Linked DNA regions of Homo sapiens: region 2 is linked to region 1. Evidence: fine-mapped QTL for protein levels in blood plasma. A gene starts in region 1. The other region holds a variant in brackets. All regions are shown on one strand. Distances are from middle to middle. Region 1 holds the start of RNASE1 (ribonuclease A family member 1, pancreatic). Region 2 has its middle 16 kb from the start of RNASE1.

What was found. PIP is the chance, under the fine-mapping model, that this variant and not a neighbour inherited with it causes the effect. Protein levels are from the aptamer-based SomaScan assay of Sun 2018.
Region 2: its variant is fine-mapped to the plasma level of the RNASE1 protein (Sun 2018, PIP 0.95).

What each region holds. Positions count from the first base shown.
Region 1 is chr14:20,801,026-20,803,939 of GRCh38, reverse strand. RNASE1 (ribonuclease A family member 1, pancreatic) reads left to right here and starts at 1,096. Exons shown (of 2, transcript NM_002933.5): 1 at 1,096-1,143; 2 at 1,847-2,712. The coding sequence starts at 1,872. The coding sequence ends at 2,342. All of the region lies in intron 3 of LOC105370397 (a long non-coding RNA gene), which reads right to left.
Region 2 is chr14:20,817,614-20,820,527 of GRCh38, reverse strand. No RefSeq gene overlaps it. Among named protein-coding and RNA genes, the nearest start is that of RNASE1, 16 kb to the right of the region's middle. RefSeq lists an enhancer at 1-38 and a cis regulatory region at 1-192. The variant T/C (reference allele first, on the strand shown) is at 1,464.

The DNA.
Region 1 (2,914 bases):
CGATCTAATGAAAATAGACTGAGTGGGGAAACCCAGCAAGGCCTCCCTGTCTAGATTCTTCTTGGCCTCTCTGAGCATTCGTCCTTTTTTTCTGGGTATGGGGGGCAGGACCCTCTCTGGAATGAGGATCTTACGACCTACAATCACACAAGGTAGGTCAGATAATTTCACTATGGCCACTTTTTACACAGAAAGGCTGAAACAATCTGAATACACAGCACGAAGGGATATTTTGATAATTCTTAGAGGTATCCAAATTGTTACTCAGCAAAAAAACAGGTCTCTTTCTAGGAGGGCATTCTGCTGCTAATAAATATGATATTCTTTGTATTTTTTCCCCAAAAAGAATTTGAGATTTGGGATTTAAGTTTATCTTTAGTTCCTCTACTCAATTCCGACCTACAGGGTCAGTGGTTACTGTAGATAAGAACAGCCCCATCCTCTCGATGCCCCCAGAGCAGGGGTGGAGGGTGGGTGGGAAGTGGCCAGAACTGGGTGAGCGCACCCTAGAGGCCTCCTCCTCCTCCCTATTCAGTTACTCCCCCTTTCTTCTCCAGATCTGGGAAGCCTTCCAGCTGGGGGCAGCAGGACAGCCTCCATTCCCCCCGACCCCGCCTCCCATCCCCGGGAGAGGTAGCGTTGGGAGAATGCCCTCCTAGAAAGAGACTTGGGTTTTGCTCCCTAGGAGCCCTGGAATAGCTTTGGCCAGAATTCCCTATCTCCCATTAGAACCTCTCCTTTGCGTCCTTTGTTAACCTCCAAGTCTACTTGGTGAAAACGCCCACGAAGAAGTAACAAGGACTTTGTTCCTAGTGTGCCAGGTTTGGGCACCAGTGCTGTAGTGGCTTTCTCTGCTGCTCCTTGTGCATCAGCAGACAGATGTGGTTCACATAGGAAGAAAGACTAACGTAGGCAAAGATTTGCTCTTTCTTCAGCAGCCCTAGAAAGACGGCGGCCTGGGTGATTCACCACTCCTTCCTCACGTCCTTGATTTTATTTGAACTGAGCTCCAGATGCTCCTCCCACCCTTTTCCTCTTGGAAGCCAAACCCCTTTGTAATCTGTATAAGGTCCACACCCCGGGAGCTGAGTGATTGCAGAAACTGGCCTTCCATCTCTCTCAGACACCAAGCTGCAGATCCAGGTAAGCAGCCCAAGAGGTGTTCTCAGGTGCCGCTTCTGCTTCAGGGTTGCAGAAGAGGGAGCTAGGGCCAGTCCACAGCACTGAGAAAGATTGGGTGATGCTAGCGCTGAAAAAATGTGGCCCAGGCAAACATCAGCTGGGGGCAGAGGGGTCAGGGTGGAACGTGCAGGCTGCAGAGCATCCATGGGACTGGAGAAGAAGGAGCCTCCAAATTGGGGGAGGCCAGCGTTTCTCTCTGGAATACAATGGAATCTTTTATGATGCCAGTGTCAGGCACTGGCCTGAGTTCCCTTATGCTCCAAGACAACAAGGCTCTGTCACCCATGGCCCTGGATGTCGGGGATACAATTTGGTTCATGATTTATTCAAACTGATGTTTCGATGAGCCATTTGAGCACTGGGTACAAATGTATTTTGGATCAAAGAAACTCCAGTATTCAAAGATAGGAACTGACAGGATTTTAGGTCACTTTGTAGGTCACCACCTAGAGGGGAGGAAGACCTCGCTTTGGAGAGTGGGAATAAAACGCTCGTGGAAAAGGGTACACGTGAGTGTCTCATTACACGAAAAACCTCAGGAAGTAGGATGGACGTCTTTCTGGCTGACCTGAAACAGAAAGTGTAAACCAGGCAAGCCATAGGTGGGAGCTGGAGTTCTTTTTCTAAGAGGGCTCTTTTCCTTCTCTCTCCTTTTCTCAATTAGGCTTTTCTGGGAAAGTGAGGCCACCATGGCTCTGGAGAAGTCTCTTGTCCGGCTCCTTCTGCTTGTCCTGATACTGCTGGTGCTGGGCTGGGTCCAGCCTTCCCTGGGCAAGGAATCCCGGGCCAAGAAATTCCAGCGGCAGCATATGGACTCAGACAGTTCCCCCAGCAGCAGCTCCACCTACTGTAACCAAATGATGAGGCGCCGGAATATGACACAGGGGCGGTGCAAACCAGTGAACACCTTTGTGCACGAGCCCCTGGTAGATGTCCAGAATGTCTGTTTCCAGGAAAAGGTCACCTGCAAGAACGGGCAGGGCAACTGCTACAAGAGCAACTCCAGCATGCACATCACAGACTGCCGCCTGACAAACGGCTCCAGGTACCCCAACTGTGCATACCGGACCAGCCCGAAGGAGAGACACATCATTGTGGCCTGTGAAGGGAGCCCATATGTGCCAGTCCACTTTGATGCTTCTGTGGAGGACTCTACCTAAGGTCAGAGCAGCGAGATACCCCACCTCCCTCAACCTCATCCTCTCCACAGCTGCCTCTTCCCTCTTCCTTCCCTGCTGTGAAAGAAGTAACTACAGTTAGGGCTCCTATTCAACACACACATGCTTCCCTTTCCTGAGTCCCATCCCTGCGTGATTTTGGGGGTGAAGAGTGGGTTGTGAGGTGGGCCCCATGTTAACCCCTCCACTCTTTCTTTCAATAAAACGCAGTTGCAAACACCTGATTTCTGAAGCGGTTCTGTCTAGGTACTGTTTCTGGCATTGCCTTCCAGCAAGGGGTAAGAACTGTAAATCTGATTCACTTTGGAGAACGGTGAATGGAGTAATTAAATGCCTTCCCTTCTGACTTGGATTTTAGTGGCTTGAGAAAATTCCTTTCCTTGTAGATTCCCTGATGCCAAACATAAAACTGTTAAGTGTGGGCTGTTTTAGACAAAAGGGAGCTACAGCCTGGGACACTGCCATGCAGGGTGAACTGACAGAGGGGTGAAGCTCAAATACAATCATTCTCTGGCACAGAAGGAAGGCAAGTGTGACCTCAGGAAGATCCTGCT
Region 2 (2,914 bases), 17 kb before region 1:
CAATGGAAAATTCCGTCCCCTGACACACGTGCAATAAGGGGCCCGCACGCACATTAGGAAGACACGGTGGGGCTACGACACATTCACCCCTTATGCAAAGGAGACTCCCAGCCCTCATGGGTTTTCTATAAAAGCCTTTGCATTCAACTGTAGAAACAACAGTCCTCTTCCAGGTCCCCTCTCTGCAGCGGAGAGCTTTCTTCTTTCGCTTATTAAACTTTCACTCCAACCTCACCCTTGGTGTCCAGGATCCTTAACTTTCTTGGTCATGAGACAAAGAACTTAGGATGATGCCTTGGGCAGCGAGAGACTACTACATTGTGGTGCATTGGCAAGAGTGTAACAGTGGCAGAGAACCATCCTGCTAAAAGTGAAGCCTCCTCCCCAAGGGCAGTCAACATCTAATAAATGGTAACGGGATATAAAGGCTTGGTCCCTTTACCTTAATTCAGAACAACTCTGAAGGTCAATCTAGCTCTAAAGAAAGCTAGAATACCTGTGGGATTGGCCAAGGCCTTTGTTGTGACTGCATCAAAATCCTACCTCTTCTGCCCGATAATGCTTCCTTCACTCCCTCTGCAGATATTGCCCCAAGATTGCTGTGCAGTAAACTTTTTTTTTTTTTTTTTTTTTTTTTGAGACGGAGTCTCGCTCTGTCGCCTAGGCTGGAGTGCAGTGGAGCGATCTCGGCTCACTGCAAGCTCCACCTCTCGGGTTCACGCCATTCTCCCTCCTGTCTCAGCCTCCTGAGTAGCTGGGACTACAGCCACCCGCCACCACGCCCGGCTAATTTTTTTGTATTTTTAGTAGAGATGGGGTTTCACCGTGTTAGCCAGGATGGTCTCCATCTCCTGACCTGGTGATCCGCCCGCCTCAGCCTCCCAAAGTGCTGGGATCACCGGCATGAGCCACCGCGCCCGGCCTGCAGTAAACATCTTAAATGCACATCTTAATCTCAGTGTTTATTTTTGTAGAGAATCTGCCCTATGACACAAGAGTATAAATGCAGACATAGAAGAGTTTTTATTGAAGGCAGTGTACATGTAACAAGTTGTAAATCTTATAAATGTCCCCAAATACAGAATTTGTTTAATGAATTATGATATATCCATAACATGAAATACTATAGAGCCATTTAGAGTAATATAGATATATGTTGACTTGGAATATATAGGATGGAATTTTTTGTGTGTGTGTGTGACAAGGTCTTACTCTCTCGCCCAGGCTGGAATGCAGTGGTTTGATCATGGCTCACTGCAGCTTCACCCTTTTGGGTTCCAGCCATCCTCCCACCTCAGCCTCCTGAGTAGTTGGGACCACTAATTTAATTTTTTTTTTTTTTTAAGTAGAGACAAGGTCTCACTATACTGCGCAGGCAGGTCTTGAGTAGCTGGGACCACAGGTGTGAGCCACCATGCCCGGCTAATTTTTTAAATTTTTAGTAGGGACGAGGTCTCCCTCTA[T/C]TGGCCAGGCTGGTCTCGAACTCCTGGGCTCCAGCAATCCACTTGCTTCCGTCTCCCAAAATGTTGGGATTACCGGCGTGAGCCACCAAGCCCAGCCTAGGATATGTTTTTAAATAAACTTAAAAAAATTGAAATATACACACAGAAAAAACATAATTACATAGCTCAATAAGTTAGCTCAAAGCAAACAGATCTGTGTTCACCACTATCCAGGTTAAGAAATTACATATTACTAGGACCCCAGATGCATTTGAAGAGAAAAAGCAGAATCTGAAGCAGTGTTACAGTACTTCATATTTTATAAAATCTTACACATAGACAAAAGTGTGGAGAATTACACCCTAAAATGTTAATAATGTTGTAGGTGATGAAAATACAAGTAGTATATTTCTATTAATTTAGCAGGAATTAAAAAAGATACAAAAGATACAAAATTATCTTTTTCAATATTCCATATCTAGGTCACTTGGTAACTTAGAGAAATATATACTGCAACTTCCTAATGAATATTTATTAACTGCTGACTTGTTCCCAAAATTCATTAATTAGCACCCTCTAATTCTGTATTGTAAGCTCCATTACTGGATTTATCTGTAATTTTGGGGTCTCTGTTAATACTATATTCCTGAAGCTTTCTATTTAACTCAGTGAATTGATGATGGAACCACAGACAGACCAAAGTTGCTTTTTCCTACTATAGAAATCAACATAGAATGAATTTATACATTAAATTACAGCACTTACTCTTCATGCTGCCTTAGCTTTACAATAAAAGCTTTAAATTCCTGTAAGTGTGAATACACTGTGGCATTTAGTTTCTTCATAGAAAGATAAAACTTTGTGAATTGTATTTAGTGTGAACATACACAAAATCCATACTGGGGTAAAAATCCATTTTTTTGCTGGTCTTTCACAGGAATTTAGGAGTATGGGGGAAGGGGTATAGGTGAGAACTTTGTCTCTTTCTGTGTATCTGTGTTTCTGCACTAAGGTGTGGGGTTTGTTTTTTCAGTTAGACCAAAGGCAATTGATGAATACACTCACAAAAGTAACTCTGGCTCTGTGAGAAGCATAAAAGTCTTAAGAAACTAGATTTCCTATTAAGATCCAACCTTTCTTCCTTAGAGATATTGAGGGGAAGATCTTTAGAAGGAGATAACATTAAAAAACAGACGGGCCAGGCGTGGTGGCTTACTCCTGTAATCCCACCCAGCACTTTGGGAGGCCAAGACAGGCAGATCACCTGAGGTCAGGAGTTGAAAACCAGCCTGGCCAACATGGTGAAACCCTGTCTCTACCAAAAATACAAAAATTAGCTGGGTGTGATGGCAGGCACTTGTAATCCCAGTTACTTGGGAGGCTGAGGCAGGAGAATCTCTTGAACCTGGGAGGCAGAGGTTGCAGTGAGCTGAGATTGTGGCACTGCACTTCAGCCTGGGCGACAGAGTGAG